Linked DNA regions of Homo sapiens: region 2 is linked to region 1. Evidence: fine-mapped expression QTL. Tissue or cell type: testis. Region 1 holds a variant in brackets; the other region holds the start of a gene. All regions are shown on one strand. Distances are from middle to middle.

Region 1 (8,110 bases):
CCACCCACCTTGGCCTCCCAAAGTGCTGGGATTACAGGTGGGAACCACCACACCTGGCCCAGAATATAAAGACACTTTTGTAATGTGCAATGAAAAATATGTAAATAAAATATTTTTATCTGTATATGTTTTTATAGAGGCTATTCCCTTTGCTCTAAATCCTCACACTTCTTGTTTGTGAAGCTCCATCTAAAGGTAATCTCTCAGCCGGGATCCTAATTTTTCTCCTTCCTTATCAGCGAAGCCTGCATCCTCCCCTCCCACCTTGAGTCATTAGTTTCCCGTCTTTCTCCATGGGTTTCTGTCCCTCTGCCACTCATGTTTAGCAACCTCCTCACTCCAACTCTACCATCCTATTCTTTTTTATTCAATCCTTGAAATAATGCATGTGAAAGCTCAGATATCATGAATGATTCCTCATAGCCTATGTGATAAAATTCCTACATCAGCCCTAAAATCTAGCCTCAACTCCCTGAACAATTTTTTCTTCCCCTATTTTTTTGCTCATGCAACAGGTGTCTTTATTGTTCCTGACACATTTCCCACAGTCCTCCCCCAGCCCTTTGCTCCCGCCATTTTTCCTGCCTGGAGTGCCCTTTGCCATCTTTCCTTGACTAGACAGTTACGTCTTCTTGCCTCCTCGAAGCTGTCAGCTGCCTGCACTCGTGGTGTCTGTAGCATTCGTGAATGCATGTGGTCTTGTATTGCTAGTTTCTTTAATGTTATGCTTCAAGGCCTAACTAAATCATAAACCCATTCTGGAAAGAGCATATGTGTTTTAGCTCACATCTTCCCAGTACTGAGCCAACACAGAACTCAGTCAAAATGTCTTCCACTCCTGAGGCAGTCATAGCCTGAAACACATACATGATATTACATTTGGGCCATTAAAGGACTCTAACTTGAACAAAAGTAAATAAGGAAGCAGTAAGTATACAACAAATAGATTTATCAAGAAAATGAAATAGCTATAGCAAGGGTCCATCCTCAAAGAACAATCTGCTCTATTAAAAAGTGCTCGGCCATGTGACTTAAAAGTTGTGAACAAGACAATATTTTCTTATTCATCAGGTCTCGAACAGGTAGAACAATGTGTGTAAAACTAAAGATTATCCTGCTTAAAAATTTTGTTTTATTTTATAAAGTTAAAATTAAATGCAGCCAGTGGAAGTATCAGAATGGACAGGGAATAGCAACTCTTACTTCTTCCCCCTTGTTAGACATCCTTCTTTTTTCCTAAAGGAAGAAGATCCTAACAGTGCAATGGATAAAGAGAGACGAAAGTCTTTACTAAAACCAAAATTATTGAGACTGCAGAGAGACATTGAAAAAGCCTCAAAAGACAAGGAAGGTGTGTAACCATCTCTTTGAATGGCCAGAAAAGGGACCATATGATGCTCAGAGGTTTCATTCAGAGTTAGGATTGATCTGCTTTTGCTATTTGGCAGGGGTCTTCTCATTTAAAGAACCATATATCAAACTTCAGTTGTGTGAACAAAAAAAAAAAAAGTAGAAGAAAAAAGAAAGCCAAAAAAAAAAAAAAAAGGAAAATCACATTTTGGTCTATTTATGAAACCTATATAAGTATTATACTACTATTTTCAGAAATGTAGCATTTTAACTGTGTTTCTGAAATTGGCTAGAATGAGAGATAATGTGTTTGGTTTAAAACATGGTCAACCAACTGTGCATGAGAGTTTTGGATGAGTTTTTTGGTTTGTTTCTTTTGACTTTTGAAACAATGTAAAAACCTTTCAAATTAAATTCTGTACGTAGAAGTTAGGCATGTCAGACTGTGAAGCAGCTCTAAAGCAACAAGGATGACAAAAACGACTCCACATTTGTGACTCTGATGTCTACCTAGTAACTTGTTTTATATGGACCACGATAACTCATTGCAATGGAATACTAGAGAGCAAATTCAAGATAGAAAACATTTAGTGATGTGAATACCATAACGAGGAAGAAGCCAACGTTGGGTAACTGTTAGCAATTGCTAGAATGGGTCGACTGAAAGAATTTCAAAATCTCATCTGGAAAAATAACAATCAAGATGCTTTAAGCACCAGCACTTCTCAAATTTCATTAAGTGAAGAGAAAGGTAAACAGTTCATTTATCATTCAGTCAAATTTATTAAGAACTACCTGCAGAGACTCCCTCAGCCATTTAAGAAACCCTACTGGTGGCTGGGTGCTGTGGCTCACGCCTATAATCCTAACACTTTGGGAAGCCAAGGCGGGTGGATCACAAGGTCAGGCGCTGGAGACCAGTTTGGCCAACATGATGAAACTGTGTCTCTACTAAAAATACGAAAATTAGCCGGACATGGTGGCATACACCTGTAATCCCAGCTACTCAAGAGGCTGAGGGAGGAGAATTGTTTGAACTTGGGAGGCAGAGGTTGCAGTGAGCCGAGATCGCGCCACTGCACTCCAGCCTGGGTGACAGAGCAAGACTCCGTCTTAAAAAAAAAAATCTCACTGGTATCACTTCTAGGCTCCCTTTGAGAGCGACCGACTCCTGGCTGTGTCCCACTGAGACAGTGTGAAAGGTGACTGAGAACATGATTTCATTTTCAGGCCTGGAACGAATGCTTAAAACGTACTCCAGCACCTCCTCCTTCTCTGATGCAAAGAGCCAGAAAGACACAGCAGCGTTAATGGATGAGGTAAATGTTTGCCGAGTGCATTTCCTAGATGTAGTGATGAAAAGGGTTATTTTTAGAATACTTGTTTCTGGTCCACTTGGCCTTGTTTGCCTTTCCTTTCTCATGACATAGAACAATCTAGTGGGGGAGCTTATAGGGTCAGCTTCATAAGTCATTTGAGGGATCTGGAAAAATACAACTACCTAGAAATGTTTGCTTTGGTGTCCTAGGAAAAGAATTGTGTCTAAAATAGTATTCTCCAAACAGAGTCGTTCTTTAAGGGCCTAGAAACCATGTGCACTTTAACCCAGTTAAGAAAAGCGACAGGAAACAAAGGATCTGCATTCAGAAAGGCCTGTATTTAGATTTAGCTCTGCTGTTTACAGGGACCTGGGTCAACTTTAGTTTTCTCATCCGCAAAATGGGGATATTGGTACTTTACCTCATGGGGCTTTTGTGAGGGTGAAATATTATTTAGTAAATACCAGCACAATGCTCACAGGAGGAGCTCAAAAACTAGTAATTTTTATTAAGGTGGTATTTTCCATTCATCCCTCTGCTGATCTCAGGGTTATCGGAGAATAACAGGGGAAAGGAAAGACGTGGTTGCAGAGGGAATAGGGCAGTCTGGTGTGTGAGGCAAAATCTGGGGAAACCAGGAGCAACTTTGAGGGCAAAGTTCTTTAAGGGTGGGAATTGGGGTGGGGAGATGGTAGAAGAGGCAGGGAGGTGGGCCTCCTGGCCTTTGTGCTGAGTGTGTGAACTCTAGCCCCATAGACATTCGTGGGGATTGATGGACATTTTGGCCACTTCAGAGGAAGGGAAAGGGATAGTTAACAAAAAGCTGATGAATTTTACACAGGAATAAAAATGAACAGATATATAGCACCAGTGTGCAACATATGGGTTTCTGCTGTGATTAGAGATCATGAGTGGACTGGGGTTAATCTGAGAATCATTTAAGGAGATAAATTTTTTAGCAATGTTTTGAAGGTACAGGAATCTGGGCGTTTTGTTTTTCTTGCTTATAGCCTAACTTTCTTGTGAAGGTAGGTACTTGATAATTGTACCCAGATTGGCAA[T/C]TTCAATAGTTCTTTGGTGAAAGAAGACAGATGCAGTGAGGTATCGCTGACCTAGTTTTTAGATAGGCTTTCTTGAGTAAGGTGCTGTTGCAGAAACAAGCCTAACACTTCTTGTAAAAGAAAATAGCCTGCATTGTGTGCACTGGGTAACAGAGGTCTAACATACCTGCAATGACCCGTGGCTACAGTTTTTATGAAATTATAAAACAGACTGTAGGACATTTTCTGTGACCGCACAAGCTGTTTAGTTAACTACTGATGCCATTGGGTTATACATCTATTCCTTTGGCTGTCCTTGCACAGAATTTTGTCATTGTCATTACCAGCATACATGTATTAGGATCATCTGGGTCCTCTCACCTGAAGCACACAGTGGAGGACACAAGGAGGGAGAGCATCTGACCTTGGAACTTCCAATGTTTATGATCTGGTGAAGGAGCAACTATGAACCTTTAAGTGAGGAATGCCAAATATCCACATGATTTCATTACGCATGCTCTGCATCTGGGTAGACAGAAACTAGTGATACTGGTAGATTTTGTGTCACCCACGGAAGGTTTCTAGGATGAGGAAACTTTTATTTACATTCTTCCTTATTTCATTATATCTTGGTCCTTGAAGTGCCATGTTTGAATCAAGAATGTTCACAAGCAGTGTCATAAGAAAAATTGTTGAGAAAACTGGAGGCACTTAGATTAAATACTGTCTTTAGAGACCAGAAAGAGGGCCACATAGAAGAAGAACTAGATGTGCTCTATGAGACTATCAAGTGAAGGTCTAATGGTAGAAAGCATGGGGGAGCTTTTAGTTTTGTCTTAGGTAAGCCTGCCCCACAATGCAGTGGATTCCTCCAACGATTAGAGACTTTCTCCATCAATTGGATGTCTTCTGTCCATGGCTGTGACACCCTGGCAGGGATATTAGGGTTGGGAATTCCCATGCTGGAGGTGTGGGGGAGAGAGGGATAATGGTGAGGAGGGGGCTGGATAAGCAAGACCCTTCCAATGCTTAGATTCTGTTATTTAATTCACCCTGGCTGGACCCAGCCTGACAAGGTAATTATAAAGTTTCTAGTTCAAGGTCATATCAAGAACAGACAGAGACTAGGAGTGTATCTTTAGCTTGACTTATTATGTTTATACTCAAATGCCCTAAAATATTGTTCCCAGTTTCCAGAAGTATTCCTGTAAACTTTGTGGGTAATATAAGACCTCACCTTATCAAAGAACAAACAAACCTCACATTCAATTTCATTTGCGTCTATTGATGTTAATTCAATTCTGTTCACAATATTTAGCACTGATGGCTCACCTTCTTCGCAGACCACCAAAAATCTACCTTCTACAATCAACACTTATCCCCTTTCTTGTCCCTCAGCAGAAAATTGAGTAAAACCTCTTCATTGCCATAAAATACTAATATATTACCAAGGTTTCCTGTTCACCCCCAGAGTACAGAATGAGACACACTCAACAACTAAAACCTCCCTCTAAACTGCTTAAAGAGTTTATTCCTCCATTTTTTTTTCCTTCGGCATTTTCTGTGAATATCTGTATGAGTTAAATGCGTACTTTTCTAACCTTTGTTATTTTGAAAGTTATTCTGATATTCCTATCCAGTTGTGCCTCATTTACTAGAAATTTGCTCACATGGCCAAATGATGTATCCACAGAACAATTTGAAACTAGACCTTTTGGAAGCGAACTCCTACAAACTGTCATCAATGTTAGCAGAACTTGAGCAAAGACCTCAACCCAGCCATCCTTGTAGTAATTCCATCTTCAGGTGGAGGGAAAAGGTAACATTTAAGGAGACTGGTTGTAATTTCTTGATTGGGCCTGCTGGGTGGAGTGGCTTAAAGTAGCATCAGGGCAAAAAAGGTGTTAGGAATTCTATGTGATATTAATATTCATGCAGTTAGTTAAGAAGATAAATGTTTTTATTTTTCTTTTGAGCACAATAACAAGAGCTAGACAAAACCGAATACATTCTGTGTACACCAAACTTCTATGAGAAGCTAAAAAACACTTTTGATTTCTTCTTTCTCATCATACCTGAATTTCATCCTTTGGATGTGCTTTTACAGTAAAATTTCTATTAAATTGAAATTTTAATATTCGTTCAGACCTAAATTATAAGATTTTGTGGTATGTATTAGTCTCATCTGTTTAAGATGGTGCCTAATGCAGATAATGCATCAGTACAGCTCTGAAATGCTTGTAGCTATTTTTATTACTGATCAGAAGGGGGAACTGTAATCATCTTGTGAAGGGACAGTTTTCTAAGGCTCAAGAGCTCGAAAACAATCTCAATCATTTACAGGGTTGTGATCATTTCACTTGCATTAAGCCAACTAAAGTTGTATTTGTAAAAGTAATGCTATGAATATTACTATTTGACCTAGACACATAGGTTAGAATTGGAAACACAGGCTATAAAGTATAGTAATTGTGTAATTGTGAAAATATTAAGGCTTCAACTCAAAACTGAAACACAGTAGGGCTTAGAAATCTTTGAATTATTTATACCCCTCAGTTTAAAAACTTCCAGTCCAGGCGCAGTGGCTCATGCCTGTAATCCCAGAACTTTGGGAGGCCAAGGCAGGCGGATCACCTGAGGTCAGGAGTTCGAGAGCAGCCTGGCTGACACGGTGAAACCCCGTCTCTACTAAGAATACAAAAATTAGCCAGGCATGGTGGTGGGCACCTGTAATCCCAGCTACGGGGGAGGCTGAGGCAGGAGAATCACTTGAACCCGGGAGGTGGAGGTTGTAGTGGGCCAAGATCATGCCACTGCACTCCAGCCTGGGTGACAGGGCAAGACTCTGTCTAAAAAAAAAAAAGAAAAAACAAACAGAAAAAACAACTTGAGGAAAACAGCTACAGAAGAGTTAATTTTCATGAATGTTTATGATAATCGTGTTACAAAATATGACTTTTTATGTCATTTGAACAGGAGCATACTCATAGCTATGTGAAAATATCTCGGCCTTTTTTAATGAAGAGATTAGAGAATATTGTGAGCAAGGCATCTTCTGGTGGGCAGAGCAATCCAGGTTCTTCAACTCCAGGTAATCCCATGCCCACAATCATTTTGGCCTGGGTCCTACTGGCAGGGCACATTGCTACATTTAAATTTTAGTTTCAGAGCCACTTTGACCTGTATCTGTTTAAGGAAATTTATATTTCCATTGGGACCGATTAATTTGTTAGACTCTGTAGCTTTATGTAAAAATGGGAAAAAGTTAAGAAGAGTAGAGGGTTGGGAAAGTATCCTATGAGAAGTTGCCTCAGATATCAGATGACTGGCATCCACCTTATTCAAATGGCCTGTTATTTGCCATAAACATAATCACACCTAAACCATCGTGAGGAGCTTTGTCGCTCTGTCTCCATAGCCTCCTCCAAACTCCCATAAGAAGCCTGTCCTCTCTGCGAGACACATGGTGATCCAGGTGGTTTGCCAGGGCTTGGACTCATGGCCTACAAACTCCTGTTAGCAGCCATCTGACTTCAGTCATTCATGCACCCACACACCACACTGCTCTTCATCTTTCAGCACACACACACGTGTCACTGTACCTGCATGTTCAAGTATAATTACCATAATCTTGACTATCTAGTTTTTTAAATTAGAAATTGGTTTAAAAAAAAAAAAAAGAACTTCAGTAAAACCAGGACATTATGGTTCACACAATATATTAAGGAGTCACTGTTGCATTGTTTGAGAAACAGTTCCATACACAGCTAGGGATGATGATAACATGCACATGCCCCAAATATCCCGTATTTATACCTGAATGGCAAAACTGGTGAATGTTTTCCAAAACATGCATGCAATTACTATTATTATACAATGATGTTTTTCTCTAGACTTGCTATTTCATGTATTATAATATAGTTTTTGGTTATATAACATATGCAGTCCATACATATAGAAAGTGCATCATAAGTGGTTATTGAATCAAGGAATGAACATTATATAAAATTACAAACTTTCCTTTTGAGAAAAATTTAATATATTGAAACTCTGCATCACACTGTTAAATAACCAAAGAGCTTCAGCTCATATTCATTTGCCTGCTAACACAGCATACTAATTACAGCTTTATCTATTTCAGCCCCTGGTGCAGCCCAGCTCAGCAGCAGACTTTGCAAGGCCTTGTATTCTTTTCAAGCCAGGCAAGATGATGAGTTGAATTTGGAAAAGGGTAAGAATCATTCTCAAATATTTTAATTGCCTTCCCATATTGAGATTCTTAGCATGAATAAAACCCTGTCTTAGTGTGGCAGCCTTAAGAGTTACTACCATGTCAAATCAGTTCACCCTTCTTGAAAGATAAGCACATCTAAAACAAAAGCTCGCATAATGATAATAGCT
Region 2 (8,110 bases), 55 kb before region 1:
AAGAAAAATGGCTTAGAGCAGTCTGAGCTATATGAGGTATGCAAAATTTATCAGGCCCAGAGAGGGGAGTATGGGGCTCAAGTCTTGCTCTGCCTCCTTGAACCCACACCTAGAAGCAATCATGTAAAGGCATCTTGTTCCTGACTAGCTGCCTCATCTGCTATCTTTATGGTCCTGGAATTTGTGATTCACAGAACAGTGTAGAGCCAATCAACAGCTTGTGTTATTTTCATGGAAATTCTTGGCAAACAACTCAGGAGCTTCCTCTTCCTCTTCTTTTCCTTTGAAAACCTACTTGTACCTGCTGCTAACCAGAGCGTATACTCAGGGCCACTTGAAACTATGCTCTTGGGTTGCAGCCCTCAAGCTTGGCCCAAGTAAATGCTCTACTTATATTAAGTTGGCCTCAGTTGTTCTTTCCTTTAGGTTCACATTCTCATCAACCTGTAGGTACAAATGAGGTTGTTAATATTAATTCCAAAACTACAAGATTCTTTGCTCCTCTTACTCACATGGGAACTCAGTCTCCTCCTCCCAAAGTCCCCTTGGGCCATTTTTGGGGACTGGAGGAATTCTCACATGCTCGGGGACAAATGTGCTCACTGTGGTCTGCTCTATCCTTCTCATCAAGATGCCTCACCTACCTGAGCCTCAGTGGCTGAAGACAACTTAGCAGGTTCTCCCTGCTGCTGCCTCCTCACAACCCATATCCAGGAGAGGTGCTTTTTGCTGTGCTCCTTAGCAGAGTATGTGTAGGGTGGAATGTGGGGTCAGAGGAGAGAACAGCCCTTATCCGTCTAGAGTCTTTTATGATTTAGGTCCTCTTATTTCTCTTCCTAACGCCAGTCTGCTGAGGTTCAAAACGTGTCACCCCAGGCTGGATTGGGGAGAGGGAAAGAAAGACATATACCAGCCACCTGCTCCTTGTCCTTGCTGCTTTATCTCTAGTCATTCAAGAACAAATATTAAGCAGCCATTGTAGTAAATTGAATGGAAAACTAACTCCAATTGTCTGCCCCTCTCTGTCTCTATGCCCTTTGCAATGGGACACTAAGTTCCTCCTATTATGAAGTGGAAGCTCTCCTCACCCCTTTAATCTGGGCTGGCCCATGACTGGCTTTGATCAGCTGGATGTGGCTGAAATGATGGGATGTCCATATTAAGCTGTACCTCCAGAGGCCTCGAGCTCTTCCACTCACTCTTGTGGCTCCTCTGCCATACCCTGAGAAGAGCCTGGTTAGACTACCAGCTGATGAAATACGGCCTCAGCCAACAGCTAGCTCCCAGCCAGCCCCCTGCCCAGAAAAGCCCAGATGCATGGCTCTGCCAAGCCCTGTGTAGATGACCTGCTTTTACATGAGTGAGGTCAGGGGACACCTGAAGATCCATCCAGCTAAACTACAGATTTGTGAACCAAATAAAGTCTCTGTCATTTGAAGCCACTGGGTTTCTGTTTGTTACACAGCATTATTGTGACAAAGGATAAACGATACCAACCTATTTCTGACCTCCAAAATCAAGGCTTTTTGCACATTCAAACATTCCTCCGAGAAGCTCAACAAATAGCCAAGTTCTAATTCTCAGTCTGGATTCAGCTGGGATGCCCTGCTGCCCTTACAACGGCCCAGTGGCAGACAGGAGCAAGATGGAAGGATTTTAATTCAGCAGATGTCCAGGAGGTCTGAGGGAAAGCTAGTCAGCCCACTGGGAATGGCACACATGAGGAGTTTGGGGATAGGAGTGCCCTACCAATCTATAATTCGTATACAAAGATCACAGTAGGCTTTGTGTGACAGCACTTCTTATGGAAACTGGCAAGGGAGGCCAATTTCCTCAGTTTGGACTCAGTTGGGACTGAAATGAAACACAGAACAGCAAGAAAAATGGGGCAGGAATCACAGAGAAAACATTGAGCTGTCCCAAGTCCTGGAATGGTGGCTCCGGACAAGTTTATCTAAAATCTCTGAGGGCAGAGAAGCCCCCTCAAGTGGGAATTTGAGTTACATGTTATTAACCTCAGTCTATATCCTGTCTCTAAATTTCTTTTAAAAAAAAAACAAAAAAAGAGATGGGGTGTTGCTATGTTGACCAGGCTGGTCTCGAACTCCTGGCCTCAAGCAGTCTTCCCATCTCAGCCTCCCAAAGTGCTAAGATTACAGGTGTGTGCCACTGTGCCTTACCTAAATTTCTTTTATTATACAGAGTTGCTTTGTCTAATTCTAGCCCTGTGGTAGCTACCCAAGATTGTTGTAACCTCCAGTGATCAAGTTCTTTGGATAAGCAAAGAGGGAGGGCATTAAGTGTGTGGAAAAGACCCCTCCTCTCCACTCTTGTTGCAAGGCAAGTTCTTTTCCTTAATTGTCCCCTGACTCTTCTACGTTGTTTCTGGAAGCTTTTTTTTTTTTTTTTTAGAAGTAGAGTCTCACTCTATTGCCCAGCTTTGAACCCCTAGACCCAAGAAATCCTTCTGCCTCAACCTCTTGAGTAGCTGGGACTACAGGCACATACCACCACATCCTAATTAAAAAAAAAAAATTATAGAGATAGGAATCTCCTGCTATATTGCCCAGGCTGCTCTCAAACTCCTGGCCTCAAGTGACCCTCTAGGCTCGGCCTCCCAAAGTGCTTGGATTACATGCATGAGCCACTGCAACTGGCTTATTTCTAGGGACTTTGAATGGAGCCTGCACACCAGGGGCAGGTGAATGGAGGCTGAGTCAGCCAGTCAGGTGAAAACTGAATGCTTTTAAACTCTGAAGTGTTCCACTGGACTGTGTTGATGGAGCTCCTTTCAAACTGGGGCCTGCCCTTGCCTGCCAGTCAAACAGAACTGTCCACAGTCTAGCAAATGGCTGTCGTACATCAATAGGCCATTCATTGGAAATCTAATGATTGGCAACTGGGACCACAGGTACAGGGAATGCAATAGAACTCAAGCTGTGGTTGAGTTCTTGTTCTGTCTATCCTTTTGAGTGATGAAAAATGAGGCCAGATCTAGGCAATTTTTTCTTTACATTGAAAGCTTAGCCTCTTGATCCTGTTGGGGCTGGAGCGAGTGTGGAGTTAGGCTCAGAGAAGTGGTTAATGTACGCTTTGCTCCTGATAGCTGTTTCTGAACATTCTATAGTTATAGTTCTATAGGTGTAGGTTCCTAGTTGTTTGGTGTCTGGCCCTGTGGGATTTAGGGGGTGGGGGAATATGGGCTTGGTATTTGAGAACTGGGTAACAGAGATGGTGGGGAGGTTTGGGCTCTGGATTTGTTGGTTTGCATATTAAAGGAGTGCTCACAGGCCAGTTGTTTGCTCTCTCTAGGAATTAGCTAACCCTCAGAGAGGCAGTCTGTCTCCAAGTCCATGAGGTCCCCAAAGGTCAAAGCATCATACAATACAGAAAATAAAAAGCATGATTAATACTGCAGGCTGAGAGGATATGTGTTCCTGCACTGTCAGACCAAGCGCAAGAATTGTTGGAGACATGTTACAGCTTCTCTGCCTTCTCTCAATGTTACGCTGTTCAGGACTCAGGATCCTGCCCTCTGAGGGTTTACAGAAGTCATTCTCACTATCTCACACTGGCCGTCTTGACCCAGAGCAGTTCTTTACTTTCTCGGGACACAAACGGGATGAAAGTCCAGGGCTGGGACTTCCTCCTTGGAATGTTTGACAAGGACTGACGTACTCTAGGCCCTTTGAATCCCGGAAGTCCAGGACACACCCAACCTTGATTACAGTGTCCAGAATGCTGGAGCGTAGGTGAAAGGACAAAAGCCAGACACATTTCAACATGAGGGACCCACTGACAGATTGTCCGGTGAGTAGCTCAGTGTGGTTTGTGTGCCTGCGTGTGAGGAGGGTGGAGGGTGGATTTGTATATTAATGGATTTTAACTTAAGAAATTTGAGACACTCAGAAACCAAACACATTTAGATATTGGCTGTGGTGCAAAAGTTTGTGGTTTTTCTTTGGTTCAGTTTAAAAACAGAGCTTTTTCTAGGAAATGACAGGGCAGGTAATTGTCATCTTTCCTTCTCATATTCTTGGAAAAAGTTTTGAGAGAGTAAAGCCTCATATTTGGATCCAGATGGTGGCTGTTTGGAAAACATTCTTAAGACATACACCCATGGTGCCAACATCATGTGTGGTGTGGATACAAAAACACACAGAATGTCTGCAGCCAATTTTTGGCTCTGAGAATAAAGTGAGGGAGGAGAGTTTTTGTGCCTTTTCACCCTCATTTTTTGGAGTCAAGGATCACAAGTCCTGCAGGAGGAAGGATAGACTCCCCACTCTGCCTGGCCTGCAGTGGCTCTCAGACTGGTTTAGCAGCATGTTTGTTCCATGTTTGTTCGTTTTGGTAATGTTTGGAGCACTACCAAAAATATAAGTTTGGTCAGAAGTCCAAAGACATTGTGAGGTCTCCGGCGGCAATAGCAGAGATGTAATTTAGGAGATAAGAAGCAACTAAAATAAAGGGGGGGATATGTTTACTTTGAAAATAAAGTAATTAAGGAGGGTCAGTGTTTTATCCCAACACATGGGGCTGAAAAGCTAAGATTGGTGACATCATAAGCAGGAGGTTGCAGTCATCCTTCATGTATTGATAACACAAACTGTGGGGCGGCAGATAAATGGGCGCTGAGATAAAGTCATAAAGAAAAAGATCAGCAGAGGATTATTGATTTCCTTTTTGTTTATTCAATGGATAAGAAAAGCACATGGTTGGAAAAAATGGAACTATAGTTACTATTGCAGAAAATCAGATGAGCTAAATGAGATGAACTCATAAATGACTAGTAATTTTAATAATGACAACATAGTAGCCAATTCTGCCTAATTTTCCTTTTTTTAAATACAGAAATAATTTGTGCTTAATGTAGAAACAAATTCCAATGATATGGTTATATATAGATTTTTAAGAGTGAAACTTCCCCCTTTAATTACTTCAATCTCAGTGTTCTCTCCATTGTTAATTGTGAATAATTTTTAAGAAGTCTTTTATCATTTATTTTTCTCTCCTTGAGGTTGCTCCCTGACTAAACTGTTAAATCCTCTCCTGTCTCAACACTCCTACCTCAATGTTTTTGTATAGGGGCGGCAGGCCAGGACAGGGATGGGGTAAGTGGCAGCAAAATCTTGGCACTAATAGTAACCAAAGAAGAAAATTAACACCAGGGAAGGGTGCAATGGACAGAAGACAGGGAAATGGTGGGCAGCTTTAATTAAGTTTAAAAAGAGAAGAAGAAATAAATCCATAAAAAAGAAACTGAAGGTCTAACATCCTTTTTGTAGACAGCAAAGTCAAGTCTTCAGACGTGGAGAAATGTTTTCTTTCAGCAGCCCCCAAGGCAACCCATAACCACACTTCTGTGTCTGCTTAAAGCTCCACTCCCTGGCATGCTGAATAGTTCCTTGTGCTATGCTGGGCCAAGGACTCCTGTCCTTGTCTAAAACTTTGAAGGTCATCTGTATGGGCTCATTGCCACCAAAAGTATCCGGGAGTCATGGGGAGGGCGGATATCCCTTCAGCCTGGGTTTCCAAACCCTCTAAACTCACAGAACATTTATTTATTTGCAATTGTTTCATCTTAATCAAGTGTTCAAGTTGATTTCCTGGCACATTCTTAGCTTGTACTTGGGGAACAATGCTATGTGAAGATGAATCTGCGGTTTGGGAACAAAATAAGACAAGGAAATGGATTGCAAATGAGTGCCTCATGAAACATTTAGGTAGTTTTATAAAAGAACCCAAAGCTTTAACCACCTGCAAAATGTCCCCTTCCATGAGTCCCTAGAGTTGCACAGAGCACAGTTCATAAAGTATTAGCTTAGCTACTGTTCTTAACCGGGCCCACACCAATGTACCCATGTATGGAACTCAGTGGGTTGCATGAACTTCAGTGAAAAAAAATCTCTATTTGTACTAATTTCTAACTGAAATTTAGAATTTTATTCAATCCAGAATATAGGCAACAAGCCCCAATACTATTAGTCATATCTGTATAGTGTCTGTGACTTTGTAACCAATAAAAATCAGAAATTTTATGATAACATTACAGTTGTTGCACATATCTAGAAATATTTACATTCACCCTGACTTCAAAATGTTGGTAATACTTAAGATATGTAATTTAGTATGTTAATAAAAAAGCACATAATATCATAATTTTAAAAATACATTCTAAAAAATATATAATTCATTTCCTTTTTAACCCTACGCTACTTAAAAATGTTATTCTGAATCAAATAGGTTTCATGAGACTACAAAAAGGGCTCATGGTACGAAAAAATTTAAAAATCTCTTTTAGATCAAGCTCTAATGGGCAAAATAGACTGACAGCTGGGCCTTTCAACCTCAAAGAGCAAGGTCAGTGTTTGAGTTCAAATTGTTGCCAGGGTGGCATAAGATTGCCTAAATGCTGTGTAGGATTAATCTTGAGAGTGTCAGAACTTATTTGAAAAAGATATCTGTAAGATATCTTTAAAGTTCTGTTTTTGACAAGGAAAAGAATTGGCTCTGGGCCTTGATGTTTCATTGCCTATGAAGGTTTAGGTTTAGCTCTTAAACCTAAAAATATGTCTAGGGAACTCATCTTCAAATCCATGTGCAAGAAAGGCGAAGTAAGATCCAATTATCTCTAAGGGAAAGAATCCAATCATAAGAAAGTATTAATAGCACCTTCCTATCAAACAATCACATAGAAATCAAGGACAAGTAACAAGCTGTAGCCAAATTTTTGCTTTTTACACACTCATACAGTATCCAGGAAGGGGTCTGTCAAAGCAAGTCTTCTGGGCGCCACACAGTCAGCCCCTCCCCGCATGTCATCGGCCATTGAAATGGCACCAGGCTGCTCCTCAGGTTGGTAACCTGGCTCAGATGCCAACCTGAGCTTCCCATCTTGGTGGCTTAGCCTGGATATCAGACAATGACTGTCACTAACTCAGATGGTGCCGGTGCCATGGTCCGTAGCTCCTAGGAGAATCTGACTCGCTGCAAAAATACAGAAGGAGGCTGCATATGGCATGGGTGTCACGTGGCCCACAGCCTCCCCAGTGTGCATCAGTGAGATGTGTAACATGCCATTCCACATTTCTTGGACCTCTGTTTCCTTGTGTGTAAAGTAAAAGGAGGAAAGGATGGAGTAGACTATGCTCTTTAATGTTCCATATCCCGTAATCTATGACAGTCTGCCACAGGGATTCCAAATACTACGCAGATGGTGAACAAGTACATGGAATCCCTTCAGAGAGGGGCAGTGCTTTGAAACATCACCCCCAGTGAATCAGAACTCACATGATATCAGTAGCACAGTGCCTGGCGTAGTAAAGGCAGTCAGCAAAGTTCATTGTGTTAAATTTAAGGGGAATATCATGGTTTCTTTAACACTGTGAGGATCATCACTAATCAAAAAAAATCCTTCTGTACTAGCATCAATAAAAATAAATTTTTCTATAACTTTTTCTAGAACTAAATTTAACCCTCTTAATCATTCAAGCAGAAAGAGCAGGTGGGCCAAGCTTGATATAGGCACTTTATAATCTTTACAAGTCGCCTGTCTAAACATTTCATGTGCTGACTGGCTGGATTACTAAATGTTTTTTGTAATGGCTATATTTATCAACAGAATTTGCTTACAAGTGCTGGGAAGAAACATTTTCCTAATGGCCGAATGGGAAATGTCTGTCAAATAGACCAGTTGTCTATTTGAGAAGGGGTTATTATTTTTTTAGGGGCTCAGGAAGATCCCAGGTATTCCACTACCAGACTGAAATCCCTTTATCAGGGGAGAAAAACCTCATCGTGTTTTTTTCCCCAATAATTAATGGTCCCCAGGAGAAGCAGCATATTAATATGAATTCATATGGAGATGTAGAATCAATAGTAGATTATTCCCTGGAATGAATATTTGATAGGGGGTTAGGATATTTAAAAGCTCAATGGGTAGGAAAAGAACACCAAAATTGCCTTCCACCTGACTGCACTTCTTCTCAGCAAGCTCTTCTTCTTGTGCTGGTTAATGACATCAAGAAGCCAGCTGTATTGCACATAACACTTAAAGGCTACTATAACTTGGAGTAAACTTACTGTGATTATACAGATTAGCCATTTA

Which allele goes with the higher level. Alleles are on the strand shown, and positions count from the first base shown. SD is a standard deviation of normalised expression in the study named.
For the expression in testis of the gene that starts at base 3,774 in region 2, allele C in region 1 goes with a higher level than allele T (moderate effect, 0.47 SD a copy in GTEx).

The links. PIP is the estimated chance that this variant, and not a neighbour inherited with it, causes the effect.
Region 2: NOSTRIN starts here. The variant in region 1 is fine-mapped to the expression of NOSTRIN in testis (GTEx, PIP above 0.99). The same link has a PIP of 0.9 or more in minor salivary gland.

What each region holds. Positions count from the first base shown.
Region 1 is chr2:168,854,110-168,862,219 of GRCh38, forward strand. NOSTRIN (nitric oxide synthase trafficking) reads left to right here. Exons shown (of 16, transcript NM_001039724.4): 11 at 1,243-1,351; 12 at 2,581-2,669; 13 at 5,403-5,528; 14 at 6,686-6,800; 15 at 7,851-7,940. It also overlaps a transcript of SPC25 not described here. Among named protein-coding and RNA genes, the nearest start is that of SPC25, 32 kb to the right of the region's middle. The variant T/C (reference allele first, on the strand shown) is at 3,731.
Region 2 is chr2:168,798,864-168,806,973 of GRCh38, forward strand. NOSTRIN (nitric oxide synthase trafficking) reads left to right here and starts at 3,774. Exons shown (of 16, transcript NM_001039724.4): 1 at 3,774-3,810. The coding sequence starts at 3,784. RefSeq lists an enhancer at 3,218-3,717.